Regions from separate parts of the Homo sapiens genome. Here region 2 is linked to region 1. The links come from fine-mapping of genetic effects on plasma protein levels. A gene starts in region 1. The other region holds a variant in brackets. All regions are shown on one strand. Distances are between the middles of the regions.

Region 1 (8,329 bases):
AGAAGCTAGAAGAGGCAAGGAAGGATTCTTCCCCAGAGCCTTCAGAGAGAGTCCAGTCCTGTCAAAACCTTGATTTCAGACTCTGGCCTCCAGAACTGTGAAAAAATCCATTTCTGTTGTTTTAAGCTACCCACTTGGTGGTAATTTGTTACAGCAGCCCTTGGAAATGAATATAGATGGGGAGGTAGCCAGAACTACAAGTCAGCCTCAAGGTTCTACAAGGAATTTGATCAGTCTTTGCCCCCAAGCTATGGCTTGGGAGAGGGAGCATTTTCCCTTCTACCCCACCAGTGAATAGTTTCCTCCTCTGCCATGCTGGGATAGGCAGAGACATGTTTTAGTAACATGACCCCTCAGTGTTTGAAAACACAAACCCTCATGAGCAAACACTTGGCCTATAATAACCACAGAGAGGTCCTGATCCAGGTGTGGGGTGCCCTGGTCAGTCAGTCCTGAGTATACTCTGTCCCAACCCGGGGAGACTCAGGAAACAATAACTCAAACCTGTTTGAGGGTTTGGCAGACTCCCAGCATGATCCAGGGTCAGAGTCCACATTCTCCACTCAGACCAGAGACGAGAGAGACAGAGAAACAGAGCCATAGGGAATCGCATTTGAAAAATGAGTGAGCTGTAACAGAGAGCTGGATTAGTCGTTACCACATTCTGTCTTGTATAGGCCCATCCAATTCAGATATTACCATGTACTTCCATATGTCAGGGGCCAAGCAAGTTCCAAGCTAATGACAGAGCTGACCAAGACAATCAGCTGGCCATCCAGAGTGTACCCTGGACCACACTGCCATGGAGAGCTCTGAATTTGGCTCCAGAAATGGCACCCTAGAATCTTAGGCTGACTACATCTGAGGTTGACCATTTGGAGGACAGCTGTTATTCAGTCATATATATTTTGTTGTACAATATGACAGTCATCCGACAACACAGATGATTTGGAGTGCCACAAAAATGTGGTGTTGGGCCAGGCATGGTGGCTCACGCCTATAATCCCAACTCTTTTGGAGGCTGAGGTTGGAGGATCACTTGAGGTCAGAGGATCACTTGAGGTCAAGAGTTCAAGACCAACCTGGGCAATATAGCGAAACCCCATCTCTACAAAACAAATAAAAAAATTAGCCAGGGGTGGTGGCTTGTGCCTGTGGTCCTAGCTACTCAGGAGGCTGAGGCAGGGGGATCACTTGAGCCTAGGAGATCAAGCCTGCAGTGAGCTATGACGCCACTGTACTCCAGTCTGGGTGACAGAGTAAGACCTTGTCTCAAAAATAATAATAATGTAAAAAGTTATGTCATGTTTATGGGATAGTTGTGGACATGCACAGGTCATTGACAATGAGCTCCTTGAGGGCAGAGAATATATCTTAGTCAATTTGGTATTTCTCAAGCATCTGGCAAGGTAATCTGCAAAAAGAAAATGCTCAATAATGGCTGTTGAATAAAAGACTGACTCAATCAAGTACGGACCCTGCCCTTATGGAGCTGAAGGCCGTTAGAGCAGATAAAATGAGTTATCACCCTTATATGAGTTAGACGGTGGACAAAGTTATTATTGAGGGCAGGCAAAGAACTGGGTTGGCTCAAAGATGCCAGGGATCTTTTCCAGACTAGTGGTAGAGGGTTGGTTAAGGAGTTTCCTGAAGGAGGTGGCCTTTCATCTGAGTTTCAAAGAACAGAAGAGATTAGACAGGGAGGACAGTAAAATTTTTTTTTTTTTTTGAAACAGTCTCGCTTTGTCGCCCAGGCTGGAGTGCAGTGGCGCGATCTTGGCTTACTACAAGCTTTGCCTCCTGGGTTCACGCCATTCTCCTGCCTCAGCCTCCTGAGTAGCTGGGACTACAGGCGGCCGCCACCACGCCCGGCTAATTTTTTTTTTTTTTTTTTTTCAGTAGAGACGGGGTTTCACTATGTTAGCGACGATTTTTGTCTGTTTGTTTGTTTTTGAGACAGAGTCTCACTCTGTCGATCAGGCTGGAGTGCAGTGGCGCGATCTCGGCTCACTGCAACCTCTGCCTCCCAGGTTCAAGTGATTCTCCTGCCTCAGCCTCCTGAGTAGCTGAGATTACAGGTGCCTGCCACCATGCCCAGCTAATTTTTGTATTTTTAGTAGAGACGGGGTTTCACCATGTTGGCCAGGCTGGTCTCGAACTCCTGACCTCAGGTGATCTGCACACCTCGGCCTCCCAAAGTGCTGGTATTAGAGGCATGAGCCACTGCACCTGGCCAGTAAAACTATTTGTGACACAGCAGCAAGTGCACAAGCACTGACCTATCAGAGTTGAAGGTGGCTGAGGCACTCAAGTGGGCTCCTGGGGACTCTGTTATGCCAGGGAATACCTCTTTAGATAAGGGATCAGGAGGTCTGGAGGGTCCCTAAGGAAGAGCTAGGGTAGCAGGGGTACCCTGGAGCTAGGGGCCATGGCTATATGCCAACAGGATTAGAAATATCTTAATGTATTTAATTAACCTACACAACCATATTGGTGGGTGCCTACTGAATATTAGCCCTAGATATGGACCTGAAATGGCCTTATTCTCTTTTAGTTTGTTTAAGCCAATGGAGCCTTACTAGAATGTGAGCTACAAAACAGTAGAGCTATTCTCTATTCAATGCTGCATCTGTAGGGCCTAGAACAGCACCTGAAGGACTGGCGGAGGCTTAATAAATTGTTAAAAGGGCAGACTAGCCAGGTGTGATGGCGTGTGCCTGTAGTCCCAGCTACTTGGGAGGCTGAGGCAGGAGGATCACTTGATCCCAGGATTTCTGGGCTGTAGTGTAGTATACCAGTCAGGTGTCTGCACTAAGTTCTGCATCAACCTGGTTGCCTAAGGATGGTTGAACTGACCCAGGTGGAAATTGGAGCAGGTCAAAACTCAATGCTGATCAGTAACAGGGTCGCACCTGTAAATAGCCACCGCCCTCCAGCCTGGGCAACACAGTGAGATCCCATCTCTAAAATAAATTTTAAAAATAATTAATTAGAAAAAAAAACCAGCCTGTAATCCCAGCACTTTGGGAGGCCAAGGCGGGCAGATCACCTGAGGTCAGGAGTTCAAGACAAGCCTGGCCAACATGGCAAAACCCCAATCTCTACCAAAAATACAAAAATTAGCTGGGCGTGGTGGCAGGTGCCTGTAGTCCCAGCTACCCAGGAGGCTGAGGCAAGAGAATCGCTTGAACCTGGGAGGTGGAGATTGCAGTGGGCCGAGATCGCGCCACTTCACTCCAGCCTGGGTAGCAGAGTGCGACTCTGTCTCAAAAAAAAAAAAAAAGAAAGAAAAGAAAAGAAAAAGAAAAGAAAAGAAAAAAACTGGGAGGCCTAAGCCCATTCTTGGTGTCCTCACACTCTTCTGCCCCATCTCCTTGCACCCAGTCTTCCCCTGCAATCTGTGCTCCATACTAGCCCTCAAGCCCTCAACGTGACCTAGTATGAGAACTGGATTCTGTCACTCTCCTGCTCATAATATTTTATGCCTTCCCTTTGCCCAGAATATCATTCTCCCTATTGTTTTTACCAATGGAACTGGTATTTCTTCAAGGACATGATCAAATTTGCCTACTTCTATATTATCTTCTAAAGCAGAATTCATCTCTCTTCCCTCAATATGATGATATTGACAGGGTTTGCCCTCACTCACTAGATTGTGAGCTGCTCAGGGCAGGTAGCGTTTTTTGTTTTTGTTTTTGTTTTTCTTTTTTGAGACAGGGTCTTGCTCTGTCACCCAGGCCAGAGTGCAATGGTACAGTCTCAGCTCACTGCAGCCTCAACCGCCTCGGCTCAAACCATCATCCCATTTCAGCCTCCTGAGTAGCTGGGACTACAGGCACATGCCATTACACCTGGCTAATTTTTTTGTATTTCTAGTAGAGACAGGGTTTGGCCATGTTGCCCGGGCTGGTCTCGAACTCCTGGACTCAAGCAATCCACCCACCTCAGCCTCCCAAAATGAGGGACCGTGTCTTATTCATTTCCATGTCCCTAGTCCATAGCCCAGTGCTGGACCTATGGTAGTACTAAATAAATATTTGTTGAATGCAATAGTAAATAGCATTTCAGGGAGCAAGAACTAGATTAACAAAGGTGGTAAAAGGTTTGGAGAAAAAAATAATAGTTTAATTTGGCTAGAGTATGAGGGAGAGTAGTAGGAGACAAGATGGAAAGGTCTCTTGGGCAAGGTTTTGAAGGAAGTTGGAAGTCAGAAGTACACAATGTGCATATCGTGGCAGGCAGTGGGGAGCCAATGAAGGCTTTTGAGCAGGAGAGTAATGTGTTGAAAAATAAATATAGGTTAAACCTATCAGAGCCCCTCTGACACATACACTTGCTTTTCATTCAAGCTCAAGTTTGTCTCCCACATACCCATTACTTAACTCACCCTCGGGCTCCCCTAGCAGCCTGCCCTACCTCTTTACCTGCTTCCTGGTGGAGTCAGGGATGTATACATGAGCTGCTTTCCCTCTCAGCCAGAGGACATGGGGGCCCCAGCTCCCCTGCCTTTCCCCTTCTGTGCCTGGAGCTGGGAAGCAGGCCAGGGTTAGCTGAGGCTGGCTGGCAAGCAGCTGGGTGGTGCCAGGGAGAGCCTGCATAGTGCCAGGTGGTGCCTTGGGTTCCAAGCTGAGTCCATGGCCCCGATAACCTTCTGCCTGTGCACACACCTGCCCCTCACTCCACCCCCATCCTAGCTTTGGTATGGGGGAGAGGGCACAGGGCCAGACAAACCTGTGAGACTTTGGCTCCATCTCTGCAAAAGGGCGCTCTGTGAGTCAGCCTGCTCCCCTCCAGGCTTGCTCCTCCCCCACCCAGCTCTCGTTTCCAATGCACGTACAGCCCGTACACACCGTGTGCTGGGACACCCCACAGTCAGCCGCATGGCTCCCCTGTGCCCCAGCCCCTGGCTCCCTCTGTTGATCCCGGCCCCTGCTCCAGGCCTCACTGTGCAACTGCTGCTGTCACTGCTGCTTCTGGTGCCTGTCCATCCCCAGAGGTTGCCCCGGATGCAGGAGGATTCCCCCTTGGGAGGAGGCTCTTCTGGGGAAGATGACCCACTGGGCGAGGAGGATCTGCCCAGTGAAGAGGATTCACCCAGAGAGGAGGATCCACCCGGAGAGGAGGATCTACCTGGAGAGGAGGATCTACCTGGAGAGGAGGATCTACCTGAAGTTAAGCCTAAATCAGAAGAAGAGGGCTCCCTGAAGTTAGAGGATCTACCTACTGTTGAGGCTCCTGGAGATCCTCAAGAACCCCAGAATAATGCCCACAGGGACAAAGAAGGTAAGTGGTCATCAATCTCCAAATCCAGGTTCCAGGAGGTTCATGACTCCCCTCCCATACCCCAGCCTAGGCTCTGTTCACTCAGGGAAGGAGGGGAGACTGTACTCCCCACAGAAGCCCTTCCAGAGGTCCCATACCAATATCCCCATCCCCACTCTCGGAGGTAGAAAGGGACAGATGTGGAGAGAAAATAAAAAGGGTGCAAAAGGAGAGAGGTGAGCTGGATGAGATGGGAGAGAAGGGGGAGGCTGGAGAAGAGAAAGGGATGAGAACTGCAGATGAGAGAAAAAATGTGCAGACAGAGGAAAAAAATAGGTGGAGAAGGAGAGTCAGAGAGTTTGAGGGGAAGAGAAAAGGAAAGCTTGGGAGGTGAAGTGGGTACCAGAGACAAGCAAGAAGAGCTGGTAGAAGTCATCTCATCTTAGGCTACAATGAGGAAATTGAGACCTAGGAAGAAGGGACACAGCAGGTAGAGAAACGTGGCTTCTTGACTCCCAAGCCAGGAATTTGGGGAAAGGGGTTGGAGACCATACAAGGCAGAGGGATGAGTGGGGAGAAGAAAGAAGGGAGAAAGGAAAGATGGTGTACTCACTCATTTGGGACTCAGGACTGAAGTGCCCACTCACTTTTTTTTTTTTTTTTTTTGAGACAAACTTTCACTTTTGTTGCCCAGGCTGGAGTGCAATGGCGCGATCTCGGCTCACTGCAACCTCCACCTCCCGGGTTCAAGTGATTCTCCTGCCTCAGCCTCTAGCCAAGTAGCTGCGATTACAGGCATGCGCCACCACGCCCGGCTAATTTTTGTATTTTTAGTAGAGACGGGGTTTCGCCATGTTGGTCAGGCTGGTCTCGAACTCCTGATCTCAGGTGATCCAACCACCCTGGCCTCCCAAAGTGCTGGGATTATAGGCGTGAGCCACAGCGCCTGGCCTGAAGCAGCCACTCACTTTTACAGACCCTAAGACAATGATTGCAAGCTGGTAGGATTGCTGTTTGGCCCACCCAGCTGCGGTGTTGAGTTTGGGTGCGGTCTCCTGTGCTTTGCACCTGGCCCGCTTAAGGCATTTGTTACCCGTAATGCTCCTGTAAGGCATCTGCGTTTGTGACATCGTTTTGGTCGCCAGGAAGGGATTGGGGCTCTAAGCTTGAGCGGTTCATCCTTTTCATTTATACAGGGGATGACCAGAGTCATTGGCGCTATGGAGGTGAGACACCCACCCGCTGCACAGACCCAATCTGGGAACCCAGCTCTGTGGATCTCCCCTACAGCCGTCCCTGAACACTGGTCCCGGGCGTCCCACCCGCCGCCCACCGTCCCACCCCCTCACCTTTTCTACCCGGGTTCCCTAAGTTCCTGACCTAGGCGTCAGACTTCCTCACTATACTCTCCCACCCCAGGCGACCCGCCCTGGCCCCGGGTGTCCCCAGCCTGCGCGGGCCGCTTCCAGTCCCCGGTGGATATCCGCCCCCAGCTCGCCGCCTTCTGCCCGGCCCTGCGCCCCCTGGAACTCCTGGGCTTCCAGCTCCCGCCGCTCCCAGAACTGCGCCTGCGCAACAATGGCCACAGTGGTGAGGGGGTCTCCCCGCCGAGACTTGGGGATGGGGCGGGGCGCAGGGAAGGGAACCGTCGCGGCAGTGCCTGCCCGGGGGTTGGGCTGGCCCTACCGGGCGGGGCCGGCTCACTTGCCTCTCCCTACGCAGTGCAACTGACCCTGCCTCCTGGGCTAGAGATGGCTCTGGGTCCCGGGCGGGAGTACCGGGCTCTGCAGCTGCATCTGCACTGGGGGGCTGCAGGTCGTCCGGGCTCGGAGCACACTGTGGAAGGCCACCGTTTCCCTGCCGAGGTGAGCGCGGAGCTGGCCGAGAAGGGGCAAAGGAGCGGGGCGGAGCGGGGCCAGAGACGTGGCCCTCTCCTACCCTCGTGTCCTTTTCAGATCCACGTGGTTCACCTCAGCACCGCCTTTGCCAGAGTTGACGAGGCCTTGGGGCGCCCGGGAGGCCTGGCCGTGTTGGCCGCCTTTCTGGAGGTACCAGATCCTGGACACCCCCTACTCCCCGCTTTCCCATCCCATGCTCCTCCCGGACTCTATCGTGGAGCCAGAGACCCCATCCCAGCAAGCTCACTCAGGCCCCTGGCTGACAAACTCATTCACGCACTGTTTGTTCATTTAACACCCACTGTGAACCAGGCACCAGCCCCCAACAAGGATTCTGAAGCTGTAGGTCCTTGCCTCTAAGGAGCCCACAGCCAGTGGGGGAGGCTGACATGACAGACACATAGGAAGGACATAGTAAAGATGGTGGTCACAGAGGAGGTGACACTTAAAGCCTTCACTGGTAGAAAAGAAAAGGAGGTGTTCATTGCAGAGGAAACAGAATGTGCAAAGACTCAGAATATGGCCTATTTAGGGAATGGCTACATACACCATGATTAGAGGAGGCCAGTAAAGGGAAGGGATGGTGAGATGCCTGCTAGGTTCACTCACTCACTTTTATTTATTTATTTATTTTTTTGACAGTCTCTCTGTCGCCCAGGCTGGAGTGCAGTGGTGTGATCTTGGGTCACTGCAACTTCCGCCTCCCGGGTTCAAGGGATTCTCCTGCCTCAGCTTCCTGAGTAGCTGGGGTTACAGGTGTGTGCCACCATGCCCAGCTAATTTTTTTTTGTATTTTTAGTAGACAGGGTTTCACCATGTTGGTCAGGCTGGTCTCAAACTCCTGGCCTCAAGTGATCCGCCTGACTCAGCCTACCAAAGTGCTGATTACAAGTGTGAGCCACCGTGCCCAGCCACACTCACTGATTCTTTAATGCCAGCCACACAGCACAAAGTTCAGAGAAATGCCTCCATCATAGCATGTCAATATGTTCATACTCTTAGGTTCATAATGTTCTTAACATTAGGTTCATAAGCAAAATAAGAAAAAAGAATAATAAATAAAAGAAGTGGCATGTCAGGACCTCACCTGAAAAGCCAAACACAGAATCATGAAGGTGAATGCAGAGGTGACACCAACACAAAGGTGTATATATGGTTTCCTGTGGGGA
Region 2 (8,329 bases), 510 kb before region 1:
AAAAAAAAAAAAAGGAAACAGCCAAAACCACTTCCTATAAACTGTGCTCAGCCACCCGTAACTTTGTAGCTCTTTTCCAACAATATACACACCAAGGTCAAATCCTCTCACAGTGCAAGGTCATCTCTGGCACCCAAAGCCAAAAAGGTCAGGTCATGCAATACAGGAAAACAGAGCTTTAGACCTAAGAAGAATCTGCCCATGACTCTTGAAATCCCACAAAGCCAAGAGAACACCCCAAAAGGGGGTGAGTGGCACCTTTGTTCTAAATTCTTTTTTTTTTTTTGAGATAGAGTCTTGCCCTGTCACCCAGGCTGGAGTGCAATGGCACGATCTCAGCTCACTGCAACCTCCGCCTCCCAGGTTCAAGTGATTCTCCTGCCTCTGCCTCCTGAGTAGCTGGGATTACAGGCACGTGCCACCATGCCTGGCTAACTTTTTTTGTATCTTTAGTCGAGACAGGGTTTCATCATGTTGGCGAGGCTGAGTCTCGAACTCCTGACCTCGTGATCCGCCCACCTCGGCCTCCCAAAGTGCTGGGATTACAGGCGTGAACCATGGCGCCCGGCCTAAATTCTTTAAAGAGGTTCAAGTCATTAGAAGCCTTCTCTCGATTTTTTGGTAATGCAGATGGCAAAGGGTGAAGGAGGTATAGGGTGGAAGAAAAGTAAACAAAAGAACAATTGAATTTTTTTTTTTTTTTTTTTTAATTTGAGACAGAGTCTCACACTGTAGCTCAGGCTGGAGTGCAATGGCTCGATCTCCACTCACTGCAACCTGCGCCTCCTGGTTCAAGCAATTCTCCTGCCTCAGCCTCCCGAGTAGCTGGGATTACAGGCACCCGCCACCATGCCCGGCTAATTTTTTTTGTATTTTCAGTAGAGACAGGGTTTCACTATGTTGGCCAGGCTGGCCTTGAACTCCTGACCTCGTGATCCGCCCGCCTCGGCCTCCCAAAGTGCTAGGATTACAGGTGTGAGCCACCGCGCCCGGCCTAAGAACAGTTTAATTTTTAAGACCAGGAAGCAAACACAGAAACCAAATACATGGTTTTTTGTTTTCTGTTTGTTTTTTCTTTTGCAGCTGTGAGGAATTTTACTCAAATTAGATAGGCCTTGTTACCCATAATTTGGAATTCTCACTTGGATTTGACCAAGTGAAGTAGAGTTGGTCAATGGGAAAAAGACAAACAAAATAAAAAAAAACCCAACAATATGATCACTGAGCACTCTAATGGTAAGCAGAAATTAAGACCAGCTGGTTGTTAACTTTAGCCAAGACAAAAATCCCTATTCAGCTACTTACCTAGGGGTGCGTCTCAGGCTGAAAACGGCTGTCTACCATCCCAGAAGTAGGAAAAAAACCCCTCATCTTCCCTGTTGGAAGTGAGCTCAAACTCCATAAAAGAGTTACCTGCCTTCCCTCGTCATGGAAGCAGGAAAACTTGCCTTCCTTGTTGGAAGCAAGTAAAACTCCAAAATAATAATAATAATAATAATAATAATAATAATAATAGAGGGAGTTGTACAACAAAATGAACTTTAGATCTCGACCAAATTTTGGGAGATCAGGGATTCTCTGGAGGGGGTGCTCCTAGACCTTAGCAAATTGTCCTGTTGGTTTGAGCCATGGAGTTAGCTCATGTTGGTACCAAGCATGGATAGGAGATTTGTCAAAGATCAGAGGTATCTCCACTCACAATCCCTCCGTGGTTACCATCCTTCATTCAGTAAATATTTACGGACTGATTACCATACACTAGGCACTATTCCAGACATTGGAGATACAATGATGAGCATAAAAAACGGTCTAGATAAGAACTGAGGTCTCCAGACATACTTTATGCCCACTCAGTTTTGTCTTTTGCCCTAGTTGCTAAACAAAACTTAACTTTGCTGTGCGGTGCGACTTCGTTAACTTAAAATTACAGGCTGTCAGCTATGACCGCTAGACTCTAAGAAAGTCCAGTGGAAATCCTTCAATGAAAAGAATCTGTTCTTGGGTGGAAGCCCCGCTCATGCAGGAGGAACAGAGGGCTTCCATTCTCGCGTCACACAACTGAGGGTCAACCCCTTGCTCCCTGCAGTAAGCCTGATTAGTGGGCGGAGCTTCCTTCAGGATCGCAAGAAAGAAAGGAGGAAGGGGACCCCGCCTCCTACGTGCTCGCGGGGGGGGGCGGGGTCGGTGGACTGGGCGTGAGTTAATTGGCTGGGGGGCGGGGCACCACGGGTTGGCTCCGCCCAGGCGCTCGCGCGGATCCCGGGTGGAATGACGGGAGGGAGTCCCGGCAGCTCCTACCTCCCAGCGATGGCGTCGCTGTGCCGCGCCCAGTCCCCAGCCTGCCGGCCGGTACTCACCGCTACCCGGAGTTCGCTCAGACGGTGAGATTTGGGGCGGGTCCGAGGCAGCGGCGGGACGCTACCTGCGACCGGGACCATGAGGAGCTGCCAGACCCGTGGGGCCGGTAACGAGAGCAGTCGCGGCACCTGCTGAGAGGAAAGAGGGAGCGGTCCGGCGCGGCTGGGGCGCGGCAGAGGCTTGCCCGATCCTCGGCCATGTCACTGCTCTGCGTGCGCGGTGAGTGCGCGGACTGAGGCGGGGAGGCGGGGTGTCGGCGTAGAGGTCCCCGCACCCTTCCAGTGGACGTCCGGTGACCGTCTCACCCAAACTTTACATCCCGTCCGTGCTTTGGGGGTCTATTATTTTGGCAATCACTTAACAATCACTTGAGTTCTTTCCACTTTCTTGTTTTCCCCCAAGCTCCTGCAAGGGACGATTAGCTCTCCATTCTGGTAGCCATGTGACAATGTTGTTGGACTGCAGGCTCAGATCCTATTAAACAGTGACTGGGGTTCTCTAGTGAGAGTGGACGAGTTAGAAGACCGCGGATGGTTGGTGCCTGTGAATGGTGGGCAGCCTCTCATTCTTTTCCTCCTCCTCGCACCGTAACGCTACAGTATGCTTAGTAGCAGGTTCTTTTTATCACACTTTGAATGCGTTAGTGGTACAGCTGTCACATCCCTTCTATTGCTTGTCTTGTCCCCTGCCACTTCCCTGAACACTAACCGGTAGTATAGGCTAAGATTATTCTTCTGTTCCACTTGGGAGGATGTGGTGACTGCTTTTGAGGATAAGAGGTATGATTTATTTTTATTTTTATTTTAGCTTGCCTCACAGTAACTCAAGGTGAAGGGCCATTATTGCTTTTCCCCTGAGGACACTTGACCCATCTAAGAAGATATCTTAAAGCAAGAGCTTTGGGGTTTAAGATGAGGCATGGTACGCGAACTAAGTTCTATGTGGGTAGAGACTGTTTCTTATTAGTTTTTGTATTCCTGGTGTCTGACGTAGTAGAAGCTTAATGCTGGTTTTGAATGAATGCAAGTACTGTGACTTCAGAGAGATTATCTGATCAGGAAAACACAGGGTTTGGATTAGCCATTGAATTTGATCTCGGGAAATTCAGGTTACAGCCTATCATATCTGATGTGTCTTGATTATGAATGAGAGAGCATTTATCAACTAGAGCCTTTACCTGATATCTTTTACTGGAGAGTTCATATTTCTTTTGGCTCTACAGATTAGAAGCATTGTTGTTGTTTGTGATTTCTCCAATAACGATGTTTCCCCCAGCTACTGGCAGATGAAACTGCTTTGCTCTGTTCTCTTCCACTATTTTGTTGAATCTGCATTAACCAAAATGGATTTGGCCATTTCCCGGGATTATGAGATATACAGTTTTTCTTCTTTCATGGTTGATTTTTCATTAATGAGAATTTTGCTTTGCTTTTAGTAAGACATTTTCTCTCAGCAGCTGGGAATCTATTTATTCCTTTAGATCCCTGCTGCTGAGTAGCAGGATTTGGGAGAGGTTGGACTTTGCTGTGTCTCTTGGACAGTTTAATTCTCTACGGCCACACTGTATTACAGAGCTGGTCCTTATGAAAGACTCTTTAGGCAGGAGCACTCGTGAATCAGAAATTCCTATTTAACTGAATTTATATAACTACTGGTGTTTTCATTTGTTTTAATAGCAGGCAGGTTTCATTGTCTAGAAATTCTGCTATTTAGCTAACTTCTTTCCTTTTTAATGTTACTTTAGTGAAGTTTCTTCTTTTTTGAATCTGGAGAAACGAGATCAGCAGGCCATTGTCTTTTTGAATAGAGATCTAGAAGATTTTAAATACTGAAACAAACAGGTACCTTATATGCAGATATTCATATTGAATGGCAAAGTATTCATTTTGGGAAAACTTACAGAAATGAATTGAAATACATCTTTATTTTTATTTCTTTTTCTTTTTTTGAGACAGAGTCTCATTCTGTCACCCAGGCTGGAGTGCAGTGCTGCGATCTTGGCTCACTGCAACCTCCACCTCCTGGGTTCAAGTGATTCTCATGCCTCAGCCTCCCGAGCAGCTGGAATTACAGGAGTGAACCACCAGGCCCGGCTAATTTTTGTATTTTTTGTAGAGACAGAGTTTCACTGTGTTGGCTAGGCTGGTCTTGAACTTCTGACCTCAAGTGATCCATCTGCCTTGGCCTTCCAAAGTGCTGGGATTAGAGGCATAATCCACTGCACCCAGCACAAAATACATCTTTCTAAAATGACATTCCTTGCGTTGTATTTTGGCAGTAGGAATGTTGTATTCTGAAAGCAGTCTATATAGTGATATTTATTACAACTCAATTTCAATTCATCTTGGAGTAGAATCAATTAGAAACTTCCTATGCAGAGTTCAAAAAGTAGTTAACTTGATGTAGAAATTGGCAAACTGGTATTGAATTAATCATTCCTAAACATTTCATTCAAGAAGTCAGTTATTTTGTCTTGCCCTTTAATCATGCCTTATTGCCTGCAGGTTTAAGGCTCTCAATACTCTGACTCCAGACTTGTGGCCTTCTATTCTTGCCTATCCTTATGCAGACTTTGCTCTAGCACTAACTTTGTTTATTCCTGCCTCTGCTCTGTTCTGCACTTGTGCCCCCTGAAATACTCGTTCCATATTTTCTGCCTATCTAAAATGTATTCTTACTTTCCCAGC[T/C]AACAGTCTACTTTTTTTGTTGTTGAAAACTTCTTCAGGTCCCCAGTCCACAGTGATCTCTTTTTCCTTTAAATCCTCGGAGCACTTGTGGTCTGAACAGTGCCACTAGTTTGGAAATGAATCATATGCTGCCTGCAACTGGTCTTGTATTGTGGTGCTTATGGTGACCCAGACAAAGGAAGTAATTGCACTGGTCAGATCAGATCTGGAATTTTGTGTTCAGCTGTGGTATTTCCTTCTAAGAAGCATATTGAGAAGCTAGGTTATCTTAAGAGGGGAGTGATTAGAATAATGAAACATGTAGGAACCGAACCATTTGAAGAATATGGGAAATTTAGTTGTAGAAGATTTAAGAGGAAGAGGATCACGATAGTACATGAAGACTGTTTAAAAAACTGTCTTGTAGAAGTTATGTCACCTTTTTTGTTGTCATTCCAGAGGACAGAACTGGGACAAGTGTGGATCAGTGGTTGAAAATGACAGGAAATTAGATTTTAGCTTAACATAAAGAAGAACAGTTGGGTTGTTCAGAACAAATGGAATGGGCTATGTAGATTTTTTGACACTAAACAGAAATTGAATGAGTGGTAAGGATTCTAAAGGGGATATTGACCATTCAGCGGGTGATTGACTTGAATTTTTTTTTTTTTTTTTTTTTAATTTTTTGAGATGGAGTCTCTGTTGCCCAGGCTGGAGTGCAGTGGCATGATCTCAGCTCACTGCAACTTCTGCCTCCCAGGTTCAAGCGATTCTCCTGCCTTAGCCTCTGGGGTAGCTGGGATTACAGGCGCCTGCCACCATGCCTGGCTAATTTTTTGTATTTTTAGTAGAGACGGGGTTTCACCATGTTGGCCAGGCTGGTCTCAAACTCCTGACCTCGTGATCTGCCCACCTCGGCCTCCCAAAGTGCTGGGATTACAGGCGTGAGCCACTGCGCCCGGCCTAGACTTGAATTTTTAAGAAACCACTCTTTTATAGAATTCACTTAGTCTTTCTTTAAATATTTCCATAAGTATAAAGAAATATAAGTCTTTAACATGTTTTGGCACAGCTTTACTTATAATACGGATACTTTTTTTGGGCTTCCATAGGGACCAGTGCCACATGAACAACTGCAGTAAACTAAATTAAGGATTTTGTTTGACTTTTATTGTCTTGGTATTCACGACCAAGTTTCTCCAAGCAATTATAAGCATTTTTAGAATCAGACCTTTCCATAATATTTCTCTGTAATTCCCAGTGTTTATAACATAGTTATTCCCAGTGTTTATAACATAGTTAGATAATTTAACTATGGATTTTTTTCCCCCAAAAGTAATAAATGCAGGCCAGTCGTGGTGGCTCTTGCCTGTAATCCCAGCACTTTGGAAGGCTGAGACAGGTGGATCACTTGAGGACATGAGTTTGAGACCAGCCTGGCCAACGTGGTGAAACCCCATCTCTACTAAAAATACAAAAATTAGCCAGGTGTGGTGGTGCTCACCTGTAATCCTAGCTACTTGGGAGGCTGAGGCATGAGAATTGCTTGAACCCAGGAGGCAAGGTTGCAGTGAGCCAAGATCATGCCACTGTACTCCAGCTTGGGTGACGAAGTGAGACCCTGTCTCAAAAAAAATATGTGTATGGTAATACATTGCTAATTATAGAAAATTTAAAAAATGCAGAAAAGTACAAAAAAAGAAAAAAATTTCCATGGGCCTACCACCTGCCAATACCATTGCTAACTTTTTTTTTAAATTTAATTTTTTTTTTAAAGATGGGATCTCACTATGTTGCCTAGGCTGGATTTGAACTCCTGGGCTCAAGTGACTGTCTTTTCTCAGCATCACGAGTAGCTGGGACTACAAGGAACACACCACCACACCCAACTATTGTTAACTTTTTAATTCATTGTTTTCATTTTGTTTTTATTATAAGGTGATAAATATACAGATAAGAAGTTGAAACAGTTTAGAGTGTAAAGTAGAAGGAAAAGTTCTCTTGTCCCCATTCGGTATTCTTACTTCCCAGAGGTAACTACTGTTTACTGTCTCTTACCTATCCTTCTGGAAATTTTCATTGCAGATGAGTATATAGGTTCTGCAGTTGAATGTACATAGCATTCTTCAGCTTTTTTTGTTTTTTAACCTCAATGATCTATTTTCCTGTCAGGTCATCTGAGTCTAAACCAAGCTTGTCCAGCCTGTGGCATGTGAGCTGCATGTGGCCCAAGACGGCTTTGAATGTGGCCCAACACAAATTTGTAAACTTTCTTAAAACATTATGAGATTTGTCAGCTATCATTAGTGTTAGTGTATTTTTTTTATTTTATTTTTATTTTTTGAGACAGTCTCGCTGTGTCGCCCAGGCTGGAGTGCAGTGGCGCGATCTCAGCTCACTGCAACCCCTGCCTCCTGGGTTCAAGCGATTCTCCTGTCAGCCTCCCAAGTAGCTGGGATTACAGGCGCCCATCACCACGCCTGGCTAATTTTTTGTATTTTTAGTAGAGACAGGGTTTCACCTTGTTAGCCAGGATGGTCTCGATCACCTTACTTCATGATCCGCCTGCCTTGGCCTTGCAAAGTGCTGAGATTACAGGCATGAGCGCCTGGCCAGTGTTAATGTATTTTATGCATGGCCCGAGATAATTCTTCTTCCACTGTGGCCCAGGGTAGCCAAAAGGTTGGACACCCTGGTCTATACCATTCTTTTGAATGGCTGCAGAGTATTCTGTTATATAAGCATACATAATTTAAACAGTTTTATATTGATGATATTCAGGATATTTTTCTTTTCACTATTACAAACAGTGCTACAATGAACATCTTTGTAGGTTTTTTTTTTTTTTTTTTTGAGATGGAGTCTCACACTGTTGCTCAGGCTGGAGTGCAGTGGCGCCCTCTCTGCTCACTGCAACCTCTGCCTCCTGGGTTCAAGCAATTATCCTGCCTCAGCCTCTTGAGTAGCTGGGATTACAGGTGCCTGCCACCATGCCTGGCTAATTTTTTTTTTTTTTTTTTTTTGTATTTTTAGTAGAGAAGGGGGTTTCACTATGTTGGCCAGGCTGGTGTTGAACTCCTGACCTTGTGATCTGCCCTCCTCGGCCCCCCAGAGTGCTGGGATTACAGGCGTGAGCCACCACGTCCAGCCTGTAGATGGTTTTTAAACATTTGTTTTTATTTTTGAGACAGGGTCTTGCATTGTCACCCAGGCTGGAGTGCAGTAGTACGATCGTGGCTCACTGCATCCTCAAACTCCTGGGCTCAATCTGTCCTCCCATCTCAGTCTCCTGAGTAGCTGGGACT

Which allele goes with the higher level. Alleles are on the strand shown, and positions count from the first base shown. The strength of an association depends on the size of the effect and on how common the allele is.
For the plasma level of the protein whose gene starts at base 4,849 in region 1, T is the high allele of the variant in region 2 and C is the other (moderate association).

Evidence for each region. A credible set is the group of variants that fine-mapping cannot tell apart. PIP is the posterior inclusion probability: the model's chance that the variant is causal. Protein levels are from antibody-based Olink assays in UK Biobank. Linkage for the fine-mapping came from a reference panel and not from the study's own genotypes, which makes the PIPs less certain.
Region 2: its variant is the best candidate, but not a certain one, in a credible set for the plasma level of the CA9 protein (UK Biobank, PIP 0.74).

The regions. Positions count from the first base shown.
Region 1 is chr9:35,669,080-35,677,408 of GRCh38, forward strand. It overlaps CA9 (carbonic anhydrase 9), which reads left to right and starts at 4,849. Exons shown (of 11, transcript NM_001216.3): 1 at 4,849-5,283; 2 at 6,459-6,488; 3 at 6,682-6,852; 4 at 6,985-7,127; 5 at 7,218-7,310. The coding sequence starts at 4,881. It also overlaps the pseudogene RN7SL22P.
Region 2 is chr9:35,159,729-35,168,057 of GRCh38, forward strand. It overlaps UNC13B (unc-13 homolog B), which reads left to right and starts at 2,281. Exons shown (of 40, transcript NM_001371189.2): 1 at 2,281-2,577. The coding sequence starts at 2,556. RefSeq lists a silencer at 2,147-2,276. The variant T/C (reference allele first, on the strand shown) is at 5,046.